Linked DNA regions of Homo sapiens. The protein of the gene in region 2 interacts with the protein of the main gene of each other region in a biochemical or structural test. Each region holds a gene or a part of one and is shown on either strand. Other genes may lie near its edges. The genes, in order: TCF7L2 and KMT5A.

Region 1 (8,634 bases), on a different chromosome or scaffold from region 2:
GCCTCATCTCTTGGGACTGTCCTGCACCAGTCACCAGGAGTGCTCCAAGACCACTCCACATCATTTCCTCATCCGGCAAACATGGCTGCTCTCACCTGGCTGTGCCTCACACCTTCAAAATGGCACTTCCCTGCCTGGAGTACCCAGGGAGTCACCAGATGAGAACTCCAGCGTATTTTCCATTTCATTGCTTCCCATGAAGCTCTCAACAAAAATCAGTGACCAAGCCCATCCCCCATTCTACTACCCACAAATGCCTCAGCCCTCACTTGTCCAGAGGAAGAACGGTGAAGACTCGGCAGTTCTCAGCACAGGCTTGCAAAATTCTTCAGCAATGTAAAGACCAACATTTTAAGATTAACCCCTTCCCTTATTATCATCATATCTAGATTCTTCATCTTATTTCTAATCACTACTGGGCTCTAAATTTGATGTTTCTGATATGCAAAACATCAGAGATACCCAGACATGGAATGGGAAACAGCTTTTTTCAACCACAGGAATCTCCTCCTCAAAGACAATTAAAACAATTGAAATCCTCTGTTGGTTTTTCCAGCACTAAGCTAACTTCTAACATGATGCACATTAATTTTTGATGCCTATTCGTCCTGCTAAATTGGGAAGAGGTGGAACATTTACTTTATTTTCAGTTTTATGAATCACCTGGCTTTCTCTTATCTATATTAAAAAAAAAAACAGATCATTTCCTAGGAGGTGTTAGTTTTTTTGGTCCACTTTCCTCTCTACCCTGTAGCTGCTACCATGAGCCACTTGAAATCTAATTTCCATGTAATTACCTTAAGAAACAAAATACTTTTTTTTAGTATACCTAAGACCTTTTCTTAGGTCATTAGTCATTTGAGCAACCACAGGCCATTATAAGCCCAGCTTCCCCTACCCCACTGCCCCCAGTCCTGTGTTGAGAGCCTTTTACATTTAATGGGAAATAAACTTTTGACCAAGACTTTGGGTGACTGCCTGCCCTTATAAAAAGTACCAAGGGGGGCCTCTGACTTCAAGAGAAAAGGCAAAACCAGCATTGCCTGGTACTTGAGCTTAAACATTCCTGCAGAGATCTAGACACTGAACATTTGTACCATCCCTAAACAATAACTTAACGACAGCATCCCCTTTCACTTCCTGGCATTCTGCCTCAGAAATTCTGCTGCAACAAAATGCATGCCTTTAGACACAAGAACAATCTCTCCTACTGTCTCAATGTTCCATCAAATGTCTATTTACCCTCATTAATTTTTCTTTTCCTCAACCTGAAACCATCAGCTATGAGTCAGAGAACGATCATTAACTTTTACAGCTTCTATACGTATCCACCTACTCACATTTGGGGAAAGAAGTATTGACTTGCAACATTGCCTGAGACCAAAATTCTCTAAGAAGAAAAAAAGGGGAAAAAGTCGCTTCAAGAAAGTTTTATCTGTAGGTCTGCGGGGAAATGCTATGTTCATCGTTTCTCCACTTTGTGCTGCAAAGTCTCGCAAAAAAAAAAAGTTGAGCTTGAACTTCTTTATGGTGATGGGCATTTCTGGGTTGATTTTTGAGAAAAACTAGATGATTTTCTTTCAACGTCAAAACATAATTAAAGCTCTTAAACTGTCTGGGGGAAAAAATAAAGTGAATCAAGTTTCCTGCTCTTGTACAAAACATATTTCTAGCATATAGAAAAACACGTGGGCTGAAGTGCTGAGACATGTTCCTAACACAGCATTTTTCATTAAAAGTTGCTACACTAAAACTCTTAAAATGATGCCCCATCATTACTCCACTTAGCAGTCGCAGTGCTGCAACTCATAACGAATTAATTTGCATTAATGTGGGTTTCATGTGTCCTTCCCTGGGTATGCCATTGTGATTCAGGCTTAATAAAACTGACACGACAACAACATAGTGCCTTTTATTTCACTTTCCAAAACAAACCAACCCACCCAAAGACCCACACAAATCCTCTCAATTTTTTAAGCATTTTACTAATATATTTTAGTACATCATAATTGGCCCAGCACGAAGGAATCTAGTTATCTTCTCAGTAAATATTTATAGCGTCACTCTTTCCCATTCATTCTGCATTTTCTTAGAGAATCTCACTGTAGCCTACATCTGCAATTCATTGACTTTACAATTTACCACATGTTGGGATGGGAGAGGTCTTAGCTCCATTTGAATCACTACACAAATATGCAAGTGATTTATCGGTTTCAAGCTGAAGACTGCAAGAGAGGGACTCCACTTTTCCTGAACATTACTTCTTCTGGCAGACCATGAACAATTACAGTGCGTACTAATTAAGCTCTGTAAATGTGCTGTGCCCTGCTAATGCCTACCAGGCCTCAAATTTATTTTCATGATGCCAAACTTTAGGGAGCAATTTTAACTCCTTCAGGGCTGATGCCACTCCTGGCCATTCCTTCCTCCGTAGACCGACCTGGTTGGGGCTACTGCATGACAAAAAGAATAAAATATAACAGGTCGAATTACTAGCCCGAAATCAGATGTGCCTAAGGAGAAAAAACCTATCTTGGGAAAAGCAAAGAACACCTCGGCTGATAACCCGTTCAAAGATCCCACAGCCCCTTCTTTGTAATGAGCTGTTTAGGGATTCATATCTATCCCTGAGGGCTAGTAAGTTTCTGCATGCCATTGATTAGAAAAGAAAACCTTTCGGCCTGGGTCTTTAAGTTTGGGTTGGATGGAAGGAAGGATCCAGTCAGAAATGAGAGCCATCATCTCTCCTGGCCTGGCAAACACCTTTGAATCTCACTTCCTCCTTATACCGCGTAGTCAGTTTGTAATACACCAGAACAGCCCACTTTTTCAACATAAATTAAAATCAGCAGGACAACTGGCCTTCTCTCTCACACTCCAGTCTCCACCACAGATAATGCCTCACCCTCAGATGCTTACACAGTAACTGATAGGAAACACATCTGTGGCTAGGTAGAACACCCTGGGTAATGAAGGGATCGCAGCCCATCTTTGCTGAGCAAAGCAATATCCCTTTTTAATAGCCCAGCCCAGGGTACTCCCACGCCCCTCCATAAGGAAACTTCCAATCTCCAATTTCAATTCCCCCAAACCCAAATCTTTGTTCTCTTGTATTATACTTTTCTTATCTTTCTTAGGCATTTATTCTGTCTCCTCTGGCTACTTTTCTGTGCCTCCTCCCGCAGATACCAGTACATTTTTCACAAATAAGCAGCCCTCCCATCCCCAGTGTAAACCTGGATTTTTTTTCCCCTCACCTATTATATTCTTTTAGTCAACTCTCTTCACCTCATCTCACTTTTTTAAAAACTCTCACGTTAACTAGTTTAACTAGTGTACTATGTAATGTGTACATTTTCCCTTCCACTCAGGGGAACATCATATAAATTAAAGAGCCGTCTCCCATACCAGGTTTCTTTAAGTATTCCTGGGGAAAATGCACAATATAGGCAATGTAATCTCAAAAAAAAAAAAAAAAAAAAAAAAAAGGTGGGGGTGTTGGGGGGAATTAAGAAAAGAGAAAGAAAGGAAAAAGGGAGAAAAGAAAAGGGAAAAGATGCAAACACCTAGAGCAACTTTGCTTTTGAAAAAGGCATCTGTGCAGAGCCCCCACTGAATTTCCATTCCTGAAAGTGCTCTTTATAAATGTGTATAACAATAGCCTAGAGGAAACGTACAAGTCAGCTGCCAAAGGAGTGGTGGCGTCTGTCTCAGTAAACTCAAGATTGTAGAGGTGGGGGTCAGCGGAGAAGGGAGGGCAGCATTTGCATTAGGATACCACCACCTCCCCCCATCTCATTGCTTATAATTAGTGAGAGAAATCTGAGCTACTGCCAATGTCTGCGGACCTTGAATATTATAAGGCCAACGTGGCGTCAAATATCTTAACATTCATAAGTGTTATGGGCTGTAAATAAAGCCTGTGGATTTATGACCTGGTGGTGCGCTTGCCAGCAAAAAGACTGGGGCACATTTCTTTCAGCAGACCTGTCGAGGTGCGAGTTTGCCTTTGGTTGTAAAATTAACCATTTCCTTCACAAATGTGCTCAATTATAAGTCAGAGTTGAAGATTTACTTACATAGTTGCCAATATTCACTCCCAGAAGAAACTCAGATGCCCACATCACACACCCCTTTGAAAATAAGACCCTCAAGAATTTGGTTCAGCCTCCTTTTCCAAACTTTAAAATGTGTCACCTCAAAAGAATTATAAATGCAGTCAAAGATATTATCTAATGCCACTCACCAAGACTAAAAAGCTTACACTTACTTCCCTGGAAAGTGCTTATTTATTTGGCAACTCCAGCATTTAAAAAAAAAAAAAAAAAAAAAAAGGTAAATCACTCCTTGCCTGAAATCTCCTCCCTTCCCCCAATATAATGTCATCTACTTCCTGTGCAGGAGAGAGCATTTGCTAAATCCAGGTTGTCTCATACTTAACTGCCAATAAACCAACTTCCACATAACTTCCAGACAGCTGGGGGAAAGGTCCTCGGAGTTTTAGTCATGGTCCAGAAACACGCGTCCACACAAAAATTTGCAGCTGTCCTTTCTCTACAGTGCATTTTTAATGTGATTCAGGGGGGCCTGTTGTGAAACATCTGACAAAATGTAAAATCCTCTTAGATACCTTCTAGTTTACCCACTGCACGTGTGTAAGAGAAGTTGCACCAGGATTTCTCCACCGAGAAATCTAGGCACTTTTTGCACACAGCCAGGGGCACCTCGTGGGATGTAAGGAGGCATTCGAAACCTGGAAAGACTTCTACTGTAATCTTTAAAAGCACAGCCTCTGGTGCAACTATTAAAATGCTAGTTTTCTAAAGCAAATATTTTTTTCAATGGCGTGCAGAACTGCAGCGATCCAGCACGGCAAACAGAACAGCATTCTTGATCTGCAAGCCCCTGGAAACCTTCCGGTAACTTTTTCACAGCTTGCTAAGAAACAGAAAGCTGACCAACTTCCAGCAATGACTCTAAATGAAATCCCTATCAGTAAAATTAAAATCAAGGTGAAGAACTCCTAGCAAGAACGAGGATTGTTTTCCTCAAAAAACTCTTTCTCAATCAGACACAGAGGGCATCAGTCAAAGCTCCTTCCCTTAAACAGTCAAAAGTTTCCAAAAACACGTCTTCCAGATAAGCTCGTTAGGCTCCCAAATGCCTGAGTTTGTTTCTGGGATTTCAGAAAGTTTCAATATCAACAAAGTGGAAAGCGCTGGCATATTTAATTTATAATCATTAAAATATGACTTATTGGGTGAATGTTGAGCCTATAATCCATACTGCAGACATTAAACCCCAACCTATAAAGATTAGCATGGAATTAATACGGTTGCATTGAGATTGAAATCTAAACATGTTCGCCATAAATATTTCTGAAGGAGATGAAAAACAATTAGCATAAATACCAAAGAAGGGTAAGAACACCTGTTCTTTTTCAGGGCGATAAGCATTTTATTGTTCTCTATTTAAAATGTAATGACCTGTGTAATTACAGTAATATTACATTGTTATGTAGGGGCTTGGAATGTCACACTTTGAAAAGTGTTGTCAAAACAATCAGGGGTGAGGTGGGGGGGTGGGAGGACAACTGGGAAGGACCACCATTAACCCTTCACACTCCAAGGTCTAAATCTTTTGTATTAGAAAGGATTATGTTGTTTCAGTGAGGAAAAAACGTCCATTTTTCACAAGCCAGAAAGAGAAGTTGCCCGGCTAAATAAAATCCCAATGAATAGGCCCCTCTCGGTTTCCTTTAAATGCTGGATTCCAAGTTCAAAAATGAATTCAAGATGCAGCTTATTTATCTGTTCAACCTAGTAGCAAAGAGCTCGGTTGAAAAGCAAATAACTTTGGATAAGAGAAGATGCAAGGGCTCGAATAATCAAGTCCTTAAAAAGAAATTTCAAACCTAACTGGAATTTCAACCACCATATTCCTATTTCCACTTTGCCAGGAGGGAAAAAGAAATGTAAAACTACTTTTTCCAATCAACTTTAATAGGTTACAGTATTCTTATCTTTAATATACAAATGTTACCACAGTTCTAATATTTGCAGTTCTAACACTTCCCATCTACTTAACTAGACCTCTCCTTAATGCAGTTTTGTATCTGAATCTGTCTTTTTAAAAGCCATTCCTATTACTGAATCAAAGACTAAATTAATATTATGCAGAAATCTTTGTCATTTTAAAATAAAATTATTACTATCAAGCTTTATGGTGTCTTCAGCAATTAAAGCATTATTCTTGAGATAATGTATTATTCATCATAAGCCGATTTAATGATACTCTCTAATTCTTTACATTCTTAAATAAAAAAGCAGAAATCAGGGTTCCAGAGAGTTTGCTTTTTAAAGGATGCAGCTGCTTACAGGTACACCATAAGTAACAGAAAATGTAGCAAAAATCACCGCCACCAAGGAGCAAAGGGAAAATAATAAAGCATACAGCGAAATTTGTCTTTACACCTTGCCATTAAAAACACACCCTATAAAACACTAAGGATTTCAGAAGAGTATGGGAAGCCCGCTATCTTGCCTATGCATTCCTCCATTCCTCCCGCAGCTGTATCAAATCTGGATTGCAAGCTGGCCTTCTGATTGAAGACGTCAGGAATGACACACAACAGCCTACCATCCTCATTTCCACTGCTCTGCTGACCAGCCTAAATAAATAACTTTAATTTTGGAGCACATAATCTAACCCAGGTAACAGGGAGGAAGGACGAAGGGGCAGTGTACACAAAGATGTCTGCTGGTGTTTGACATGTAAGTACTAAAACTGCCTACTGAGTTCAGAAATGTGTTCTGAGACTCAATCTGATGTCACAGCACCAGGCCACCCGCTATGTCCACAATTAAAATAACTAGACGCCGTCTATTCCTATAATGCCCACAAAAGGGACCGATCATTGGGAGCCTTCCTTTTCTCACCGGGAAATCATTTATTTGCCTTTAGCAATTTCCCTGTTTGCTAATTACAAGACAACACAACTGCTCAAGTTTGAGAAGGGATGGCAAGATTGCCAGTATCAGACAGCGAGTTTAAAAAGAGTCAAGAAAGCTAGCAAGCCCGCCATCAAAGCTCAATATTCAGATGGTTAAGTGGATTTTAAAATAATACCAGGGAGGTTTCCATCGGAAGGGGGAGGGGAGGAGAGGCAGAAATTCTCAGGGATTCTTTGGAATGTTGCTTGGTCCGGTTTATTGGTAGGCGAACACTGCGATTCTGAGCCGAACGGTCCCGTTTAAGATGCCCCACAAGCTCCCAAGAAAAATACAAAGTAAGCGAACTGTGCTTCCCCTACAGCTGCAAGCCCAGAGCGCGGCCCCTGCAGCCTGGTGGAACTGGCCCTGGAGAAGGGGGTTGAGCCGAACCGCTCTCCCAGCTTCCCAAGCATGTCTGGGCGCCGGGCAGGGGGGGAATAATTATTTCTCTTCCCTAGCCATAAAAAAAATGACCGGTCTAGCATGCCCTTGCCATTTTGCCAGGGCCCAAAAAAGCAAGTCAAACCTGATAGTTAATATTTTAATGCTTAAAAACACTTGTAGATCTGATCGACTCCCGTCCGGCAAGCCCTCGGCCATTAGCACCGAATCCATGGCTGCTGAACAGTGGGTGCATTATTTCAAATTGCTATCTAGAGTTACCGAAAAAGAAAAAACAAAAGTCGTGTGTGTAAATAAGGGGTAGGGGACCAAACTGGAGAAGGTGTAAAATGACAATACCGGGAAGCCGGGCACAAATGCGTCTTGCGTCCAGGGATTCGTAATCCAGGCTTCTTAGAAGAGGGAGGGAGGGATGAGGAGGAGGGGGTTCAGGGTGAGGGCAGGGGGCACAGGCCGGTGGGGGAGGGGATGAGCCGTATTAACAAATGTCAGGGTTGGGCGCGGGACCGACCCTGCAGGAAGCGCCCCCCGAGCCCGGCACCCCGCGCTGCCCTGGGGCCCCCAAAGTTGGGTGGCCGGCGATCGGCGGCCCACTCCCTTGAAGGAGAGGCGCCCCAGCCTCCCTCGGCCCCCGCACCTCCTTGAGCCCGCACACCCTGGTCTCTGGCCCCCCTGGGGCCCACGACGGGCCTACACGGAAGCTGGCGAGCGCCGACCCCGCCATACATCCCAAGGCGCCAAAATTCCCTAGAAATACACAAGTCCGCTTGGAGGAGTCCATTCCGGCTGCACACAAACCAAGAATCCGGGCCGCAGGGGCCTCCCCGCCCCACTCAGCCCTGCTGCCCTGCGCGGCCCGGGAGAGCCCGCAGCCAGTGCGCCGGGCAGCGGAGCCCGCCACGGCGCCCAGGGCGCTCGCGGCCCTGCGGGTTGCCAAAGAAAAGGACGCCTCAGAGCCCCCAAGTTTGCGGTGGGACCAATCTGGGAAGTGTGACCTTCCAGGGGAAGGGGGAAGGAGGGCCGAGAGCCAGCAATCTCCACTAGAAAGCTAAATACATAGTCGCCCAAAAGAGAAAGCCAAGGAGCCTCTCCAGGGCCCCGGGCTCTGCGCGCTAGCCAGTTCTCAAGTCCAATGCCTGGAGGAAACCCACTCTCTACCCCGCGCATCGGGCGCAGCACAGTCAGTCACTCGTGGCCCGCAGCGGCAGCCAAGGGGTTAACCGGGGAAAGCCCAAGACGC
Region 2 (8,634 bases):
CTGCAGGCGGAGGTGGGGGAAAGACGGGTTTATTCTGTACTGTCTCTCAATTTCCAGACGACCAGCTGCATTCTAAGACAAGCTTTGAGAAGACAGGATCCTGGGTTTGTCAGGCAGGAGTGCCCTTGGCCTGTTAAGCCCCGTGTCCGCTATGGGCTATGACAGGGGGAGTGCCTAGCTCCAGCTCGATTTTTTGACCAAGACACTGGGCAGAGGTTTTAGGCTTTTGCATCTTGACGTGGGAGATAGAGAGCCTGTGAGGGAGAGGCACCAGAGACGGAGACGCTGGCAGGGTGCTTGATCAATAGCTTTCAGGAATCAGGTTGCAGACTCAGATCAAAAGCTCCATTCCTGAAGGCTGGGACAGCATTAGGGGACAGGAGTAAGGTGACAAAGCAGAAACTCTTCCCCAAGAGCTGCCTGGCACCCTTCATTTCAGACTCCGAAGAAAAAGAAGGTCCCCTTCTAGTGGGGTTGAAGCCCCAGGTTCACAGCAGTTCTCAGCATGGTGCCCCAGCAGACTGGCCTGGGTATCGGGAGACACACTGCAATGATCTGTCACTTAAAACACTTGTGGAGTGACAGTGTTGGAAAACTGCTTACCTTTTTAAAAAATGTTTTACTTTTAAATAACTAAGTAAATAGGCTGGACACAGTGGCTCCTGCCTGTAATCCCAGCACTTTGGGAAGCCGAGGCTGGCGGATCACCTGAGGTCGGGAGTTCAAGACCAGCCTGGCCAACATGGTAAACCCCATCTCTACTAAAAATACAAAAATTAGCCAAGTGTACTGGCGGACACTTGTAATCCCAGCTACTCAGGAGGCTGAGGCAGGAGAACTGCTTGAACCTGGGAGGCGGAGGTTGCAGTGAGCTAAGATCATGCCATTGCACTCCAACCTGGGCGAAAGAGTGAGACTCTGTCTCAAAAAAAAAAAAAAAAAGAAAAAAAAATTAAGTAAATAGTACGCTGCTCACAGATATAAAATGGTGCAGCCACTTTAGAAACAGTTTGACATTTTCCCAAAAAGTTAAACACAGAGTTACCATATGACCCAGCAATTTCACTCCTAGGCATCTATTCCAGAGAATTAAAAACATATGTCCCCAAAAAAATCTATGCAGGAACGTAACAGTTTATTTGTAATAGCCAAAAAGTGGAAACAACCCAAATGTCCATCAACAGATGAATAAACAAAATGTGGCCTATCCACAAAAGGGAGTATTATCCAGCCATAAAAAGGAATGAAGGGCTGGGCAGGGTGGCTCCCCTGAGGTCAAGAGTTCGAGACCAGCCTGGCCAAGATGGTAAAACCCCATCTCTACTAAAAATATAAAAACATTAGCCAGGCGTGGTGGTGTGCGCCTATAATCCCAGCTATTTGGGAGGCTGAGGCAGGAGAATAGCTTGAACCTGGGAGGCAGAGGTTGCAGTGAGCCAAGATTGCACCATTGTACTCCAGCCTGGGTGAGAGAGAGAGACTCCTTCTCAAAAATAAAAAAAAGGAATGAAGCACTGATACTTATTACACCGCGGATGAACCTTGAAGACATGATGCTCAGTGAAAGAAGCCAGACACAAAAGGCTATGTATTTTGTGATTCCATCCATATGAAATGTCCAAAACAGGCAAATCCACAGAGACAGAAAGTACTTTAATGGTTACCTTGGACTAGAGGGATGGGGAATCGAAGGTGACGCCTAATGGGTACCTTTCTGGGGTGATGGAAACGTTCTGGAATTAGACTGTGGTAATGGTTGCGCAACCCTGTGAATATACTAAAAACCACCGACTCATACGCTTTAACATGAACGTTATGATATATTAACTATATCTAGATAAACAAAACAGAAAAATAAATAAATACATTAGGCCGGGCACAGTGACTTCACCTGTAATCCCAGCACTTTGGGAGGCCAAGGCGGGTGGGCCACCTGAGGTCAGGAGTTCAAGACCAGCCTGGCCAACATGGTGAAACCCCATCTCTACTGAAAATACAAAAAATTAGCCGAGCGTGGTGGCGGGCACCTGTAATCTCAGCTACTTGGGAGGTTGAGGCAGGATAATTGCTTGAACCCGGGAGATGGAGGTTGCAGTGAGCCGAGATTGCACCACTGCACTCCAGACTGCAAGACAGAGCGAGACTGTGTCTCAAAAAAAACAAACAAAAACCATTAAAACCATCCAGATCTTTCTTCCTCCTCTACACACCTTCCTGGGTGAAATCAGAGAGAATTAAAGCCAGGACATCAGGCCCAGGAGTGTGTGGTGCCCGTGAACATTATCTATCACTCAGTCTGTATCACAGCAGAATCACGGACCACAGCCTGGACCTTGGGGTCTCCAAAGTCCAGCTGACCTAAATTCTTTTTATTTTTATATTAGAGATGGGGTTTCTCTCTGTTCCCCAGGTTGGAGTGCAGTGGCATGATCATAGCTCACTGCAGCTTTAAACTCCTGGGTGCTAGGGATCCTCCTGCCTTAGCCTCCCAAGCAGCTGGGACTACAGATGCATGCCACCATGCCAGGCTAATTTTTTTTGTTTTCATTGTTGTAGAGATGAGGCCTCACTATGTTGCCCAGGCTGGTCTCAAACTCCTGGGCTCAAGCAATCCTCCTGCCTTGGCCTACCAAAGTGCTGGAATTACAAACCCGAGCCACCATGCCCGGACTCTGACCCAAAATTCTAATCATGGCCATTTAGTAAAACCATGAGCCAAATATACTAGCTTGTATACCAGGCCACCATTTGGTACAATGTATAGACTGCCCTATTTTAAAGGACTAGAGTCCGGGCAACTACCATTTATAGACAGCGCCTCTCCCCAACCCTATGGGCAGGAATTCTAAGTGCCACAGGTCCAGGGATGAGCTGGCAGTCCAGGGGTGAAGAGCTGGCACATGGAGTCCACCACAAAGCCCTTTGGCATCCACGCTGCAACCACCCTTCAAAACAGTCCTGTGTGTGTGAGGTCAGACTCCTCTCTCCCCATTTACAGATGAGAGAACAGAGGCTCAGAAGAGAGCAGCAACCTATCTAAGCCTCCTTCTTTCAGGTGGCAAACTTAAGATTGGAACCCAAGTCATCTGAAGATCAAATAAAACAATATTGCCCTGTGTACCAGGGGAGATCAAGCACAGGGTGGGCTCCTGTCCCCAGTTCAGGGCTTGCCCAGCCCTGGTTCTCAGATCCGGCCCCAGAGGTCATGCCAAATCGTCATTTATGACACTTTCTGTTAGCGAACACAAGGCTTCCTTGTATGGAGCTGCTGGCAGCCAGAGGCTCTGCTTCTTTCAGACAAGTTTTAATTAGAAGAGAGCATGGTGAATTGGGGAAAGCTGACACTCCCCACTGCAGCTTTGAAAGGGAATATTTGGATTAGAGCAAGATGTCTAAGAGGTTTCAGTTTGTTTTGCAAGACCAGACCGTTTTCATTAACCCTGTATTTTCGGGTTTAACATTTTAACTCCAAATCTCATTGCATAGGATGCTGCTTCAGAAACTAACACCAAATGCTTGATTGGCAGGAAACTTTAGAAATGGGGTCAAGGCAGCTAGGCGCGGTGGCTCATGCCTGTAATCCCATCATTTTGGGAGGCCAAGGCAGGTGGATCACCTGAGGTCAGGAGTTTGAGACCAGTCTAGCCAACACGGTGAAATCCCGTCTCTACCAAAAATACAAAAATTAGCTGGGCGTGGTGGCGGCCGCTTGTAATCCCAGCTACTCAGGAGGCTGCAGCAGAAGAATCGCTTGAGCCCAGGAGGCGGAGGTTGCAGTGAGCTGAGATCGTGCCATTGCACTTCAGCCTGAGGGACGAGAGCGGAAATCCGTCTCAAAAAAAGAAAAAGAAATGGGGTCAAGGCCAGCTCATAAAAGGGAAGGAAGTCAGTTCCCTACATGAACACATTAGTTAGGTCTGCAATTGCCTGGTCTGTACAACCTGAATTCATGACTTCTGCACTTTCAGCACTTGTGAGCCTCTCTAATTGTGGGTCAGGTATGTTATTTTTGCAACTAAGCAAGACAATCAAGCTTGAAGGATATGCTAACTCTTGTGAAAGCAGGGAAAACCTGTCAAACCAACAGGGCACACACCCTGGGACAAGCCATTCTTTCAGCAGCAAGACAGAACATGGCTCAAACCTCTCGAATCTGAGACTGAAAAGGTTGGATAAATACATATGTGCATTCTTGCAGAGGACAGAGGCTTCTGCAACCCGACCAGCTGGGATCAGAACGAGGCCATTTCAAAAGCTTACCTTCTCGTTTCCTGTAGATTCCGGCTAATGGTTTCCCCTGGCATTTGACTTCGTGATGTGTAACTGAGTTCTCTTCCTGAAGGGGGAAACGCATTCCAGAGCATTTGTTCGGGCTCATGTAGGAATAGATCTTTGACTGCCCGGTAAATACGTTCTCCTAAAAAGACAAAAGCATATTCTGAAAGAGGCTTGAAGAAGAAGATCCTAGAGCATTCACGAGGAGGAGGAATACAAAAGATGAAAATCAGACAACACCGTTTTTCAAAAACTGGGCTACCAGGGGATGCCAGCCCCCATTGTCTCAGGAGAGCACTGGCAGGTTTAGAATCCCAGGTCCAGTGAAACGTTTCCTAAACGCGCTGGTCTCTAAATCACTAAGGGGACAGCTGGCCAGCAGGAGAGTCGGCTGCAACCCAAGGTCTATATAGGAAGAAGACAGCCTACCCGCAACAGGGAGGTCAAAAGGACCTGGGCATGTGAAGAGCTAGGCTATCTTTAGGAGTTCACTGCCCTGGCAGGAGCCGCAGGGACTCAGCACAGAAACACGCCCCGGGGAACCTGATTAACCACTTGGTGCTGAGGGCGGCTGGAGGGCCTGTCAGCACAGCCAGAGCCCCATGAGCGCCGGAGCCTGACCCCTCTCAAATCACTGCAGCCCCGCAGCCTCCAGGGCTGCGACGGGAGGACTTCTCTCAGGGTGACTGGGGAATCTGGGAAGAGCAGGAGCCACAGCCAGCGCATTCGGGGCGGCCACTTTGTCGCAAGCCGCACCTGGGCGTCAGTAAGAGAGTGGACGGGGCGGTGGGGCGGTTCAGGTCACTGCGGGCGCCTCTGGGCGTGGGGCCCCTCCTCTGAGTAAGTACAGACGGAGGAGGGCGTCCCCAGAAGCAACGCCGGGCCCTCGCCGCCTCGGGGACCATTCAACACCGAGGCGGTGAGACCCGTGACCTCTCCGAGGGGCCCGCGCAGGCCCCGCACAGCCTGGGACCGCGGCCACCTCCGGGGAAGTAGGGTCTTGGGCTGCGGAGACGCCACGAAGGCGCAGTCAAACTTTTCCGAGGTCAAACACCGCCAGGCTCATGGCGGAGCCGTGTGGGCGCCACTCCCAGCCAGGCGGCAGCAAAGGAAGCGGCCCGGCCGGGCGCCCCGGGCGGGTACCCGGGGTCGCCCATGTGCTCGCGGCCCCGGCCCGGCGGGCGCGCCGCAGGGGTGCGGGGAGGGTGCCTGCTTACCCCGTCGGTGCGGGGCCTCCCCGGGCCCCTCCGCTCCACCATCTCCGGGCCCGGGGCCGTCGCTGCCACCGCCGCCGCCGCCGCCGCCGCCTCCACCGCGCGGGGCTTGGACATCTTCCTGCCTGGAGAAGGGGACCCGGGGGAAGCGGGGGAGGGGGCGCTCAGGGCGCGGCGGGGCGGGGAGCGGGGCCGCCCGGGCCGGGCGCCGCGACGGCGCCTCCCGCCGCAGCCATATTTCGAGGCCCCGGCTCTGGTGAGCCGCCCGCGCAGCCGGGAGGGCCGGGCCGGAGCCCGCGTCGCCCTCCCGCCGCCCGGCCCGGCCAGGCCCCGCGCGCCGCCCGCCCCCCGCGCGGCCGGGCCCGACACACCCACCTGCAGCCCGGCCAGGCCCATGGCGGCGCGCCCCGCGCCCTCGCCGCCGCCACCAGCGCCGCCGCGGCGCCCCGGGGAAGGGCCGGCGGCGCCCCACGGCGCCCCCTTCCCCCATGGCCGGCGAGGCAGGGCCCGGCACCCGCGCACCGCGGCAGCCCCGGGCCGCCCGGGGCGAGGCACGAAGGGAAGGAGGCGCAGGCGGCGCGTCCTCCGCAGCCCTCCCGCCCGCTCGCAGCCGCCCACCGTCCGGCGCCCGGCCCGGGGAGGGGGCTGGTAGGGGCGGCGCCGCCAGGCCGCTCCGGAGGGCGGGCGGGCGGGCGCGGCGAATCCCGGCTCGGGCGCGCCCCCTCTCGCGCGGCCTCAGCCACTCGCGGAGGAAGGGGTGGGAAACACCGTCATGACAGCCCAGGCTCCCGCCCGCCCTCCCGCCAGCCCGCCCGGCTCCTTTTTCCGCTGGCTCTGCGGATATTTTGGGAACCCGGTCTGTGCCAGACGAAATCAGCAGCGGTGAACGCGCCAGGCCAGGCCCTCGGGTGTGCCCGGCGCTGTGCCCACCGAGAGTTTCACAGGCATTGAATCCTCCCCGCACGCCCACGGGGGCAGGTCCTGTCGGCATCCCAGCTTACAATGGTGACACTGTGACTCAAGGGATGTGCAGGGGTTTGTCCCGGGCCACAGAACTAGGAAGTGATGGGGCCAGGTGTCAAACCCAGAAGGGCTGTACTTGACCGGTAGGAAGCCCTGGGGAGACAGAGCCAGGGGTTATAATGATCGGTTTCCTGGGCGAGTCTCTTGCCGTTATCTCACTGAAACCTCACAGCAGCCCTGCAAAGGTAGACACCATTATTATCTCTTTTCAACAGATGGAGAAAGTGAGGAGCTTGGCCAAGTTCTCAGAACTAGATGGGTTTTCAGCCCCAGCCAACTGACCCCAGGGCCTTGCCCTCCCAGCCACTACCCTTCCTGGTTACAGATGAGGAAATGGAGTTTGGGAGAAGCAAATGGTCTTGCAGAAGGGTTTAACATGTCACCTTGTTCTCCTATCCCGCCGTGAGAAAATGCCCCCATAGGCAGACGAGGTTCCCGTCACTCTGGTGGCTGTTTCAGCATAGCTCACTGCCCTGCACCACTACTCTGTGGCCATTAAGGCTTGAGGGCCCACAGCCAGATTCACTGTATTTGTGCAAAGTCATAGATGCAAACAAGACACTTCAAGGCATCCAGCTCCTGCAGCCTGGCCCATGGCCTGGGAGTCAGGGGCTGGACTTATTTCCCTGCATCTGCCCAGAGGTGTTTTGTGACCATCGCCAAGTCACTTCCCCAGTCTGGGCCTCAGTGTCCTCATGGGTAAAAACCAAGAACCTTGAATTCCATAATCCACCAGAGCACCTTCCAACATCCACAGATAAGCAAATGGCTGTTTGTAGCCATCCTCCCACCTAGCCTCCCTCGACTCCCATTGGAACGGATAAGACTGAGTAGGATTAGGTGGTGACAGGTCACTGCTCAGACAATCCCTCCCAAATCAGCTCATGCTTTAGCATCCTTCAAGGCAGGGTCTCCAGCCCAACCACTAACTCCAGTGGGCTAGGTACTCTGCCTATGCCCTCTGCAGAGCCTACTACAGTTGAATATCCAAAAGATTACCCAGAGGGTGAAAGAGGATTCGAAAGTGACACTCTGATAACCAGGTTGAGCCATTTGAAAGCGTCTTCTATTTCTGCAAGGCAGAGAAGTTTTGCAGCTTAACTGCCATGAGAATCATGGTTTTGGAGCAGGAAGCACCCACATAGATCATCTTATCCATTTCACATTCTAGTATACCGAGCCACACCCCACGCCCCACTCATGGTCATAGCTTTCTCTGCATTTGAGCCCCCAATTGCAGGGGACACATTACAAGTCTAGCACCTATTCCTCTCAATTCTGCAGCTCCAGTACCTAGAAGATGTAAATACAGATCATTCAATGTAAGTTTCAAAACAGTCCTTTCTCCGCAAGTTTATACGTATATAACAAATACACCAGCTGGGCGCAGTGGCTCACACCTGTAATCCCAGCACCTTGGGAGGCAGAGGAGGGCAAATCACCTGAAATCAGGAGTTTGAGACCAGCCTGGCCAACATGGCGAAACCCCGTCTCTACTAAAAATACAAAAATTAGCTTGGCGTGGTTGCGCATGCCTGTAATCCCAGCTACTTGGGAGGCTGAGGCAGGAGAGTCACTTGAACCCAGGGGGGTGGAGTTTGCAGTGAGCCAAGATTGTGCCACTGCACTCTATCCTGGGTGACAGAGTGAGACTCTGTCTCCCAAAAAAAAAGAAAAGTCTGTATTTTTGGAGACCCCCCCACCAGGTGCTAAGGGATAATGAACTGAAGATGGCAAAATGAGGAGGGCAACCAACCAAGAGACCATTCAACAATGGCAGTAGAAATAGTGAAAGGTAGGTGGACTGACCCCTGAGACTAATATATTGGGGTTGTAAATATTTGCATGATTATAAAACTTCAAAATGAGTGAGGTGTTGCCTGGCATCTGACCAGTTTGTTTCTGTGACCCAGCAGGGCTCTCAAAGTGAATTGCAAGTTCAAAGCCCAATTTTCTAGAAGAAAAAGACTGTTCATTTGAAGTGCTGTAAATGATTTGGTATTTACAATTCTAAATATTGGCCAGGCGTGGTGGCTTTTGCCTGTAATCCCAGCACTCTGGGAGGCCGAGGTGGGCAGATAACCTGAGGTCAGGAGTTCAAGACTAGCCTGGCCAACATGGC

The links.
Region 1: the proteins of KMT5A (region 2) and TCF7L2 form a complex in vitro, tested with the Homo sapiens proteins (one study listed by BioGRID).

Annotation. Positions count from the first base shown.
Region 1 is NC_000010.11:112,952,045-112,960,678, reverse strand, and holds part of TCF7L2 (transcription factor 7-like 2), read right to left. Parts: exon of another isoform or gene 8,337-8,634; intron 1-8,336. UniProt on the Homo sapiens protein: Participates in the Wnt signaling pathway and modulates MYC expression by binding to its promoter in a sequence-specific manner. Acts as a repressor in the absence of CTNNB1, and as activator in its presence.
Region 2 is NC_000012.12:123,386,413-123,395,046, reverse strand, and holds part of KMT5A (N-lysine methyltransferase KMT5A), read right to left. Parts: intron 6,137-8,634; exon of another isoform or gene 5,980-6,136; coding exon of another isoform or gene 5,865-5,979; intron 5,615-5,864; coding exon 5,493-5,614; intron 5,011-5,492; exon of another isoform or gene 4,705-5,010; intron 4,418-4,704; coding exon 4,261-4,417; intron 3,773-4,260; exon of another isoform or gene 3,617-3,772; intron 1-3,616. UniProt on the Homo sapiens protein: Protein-lysine N-methyltransferase that monomethylates both histones and non-histone proteins. Specifically monomethylates 'Lys-20' of histone H4 (H4K20me1).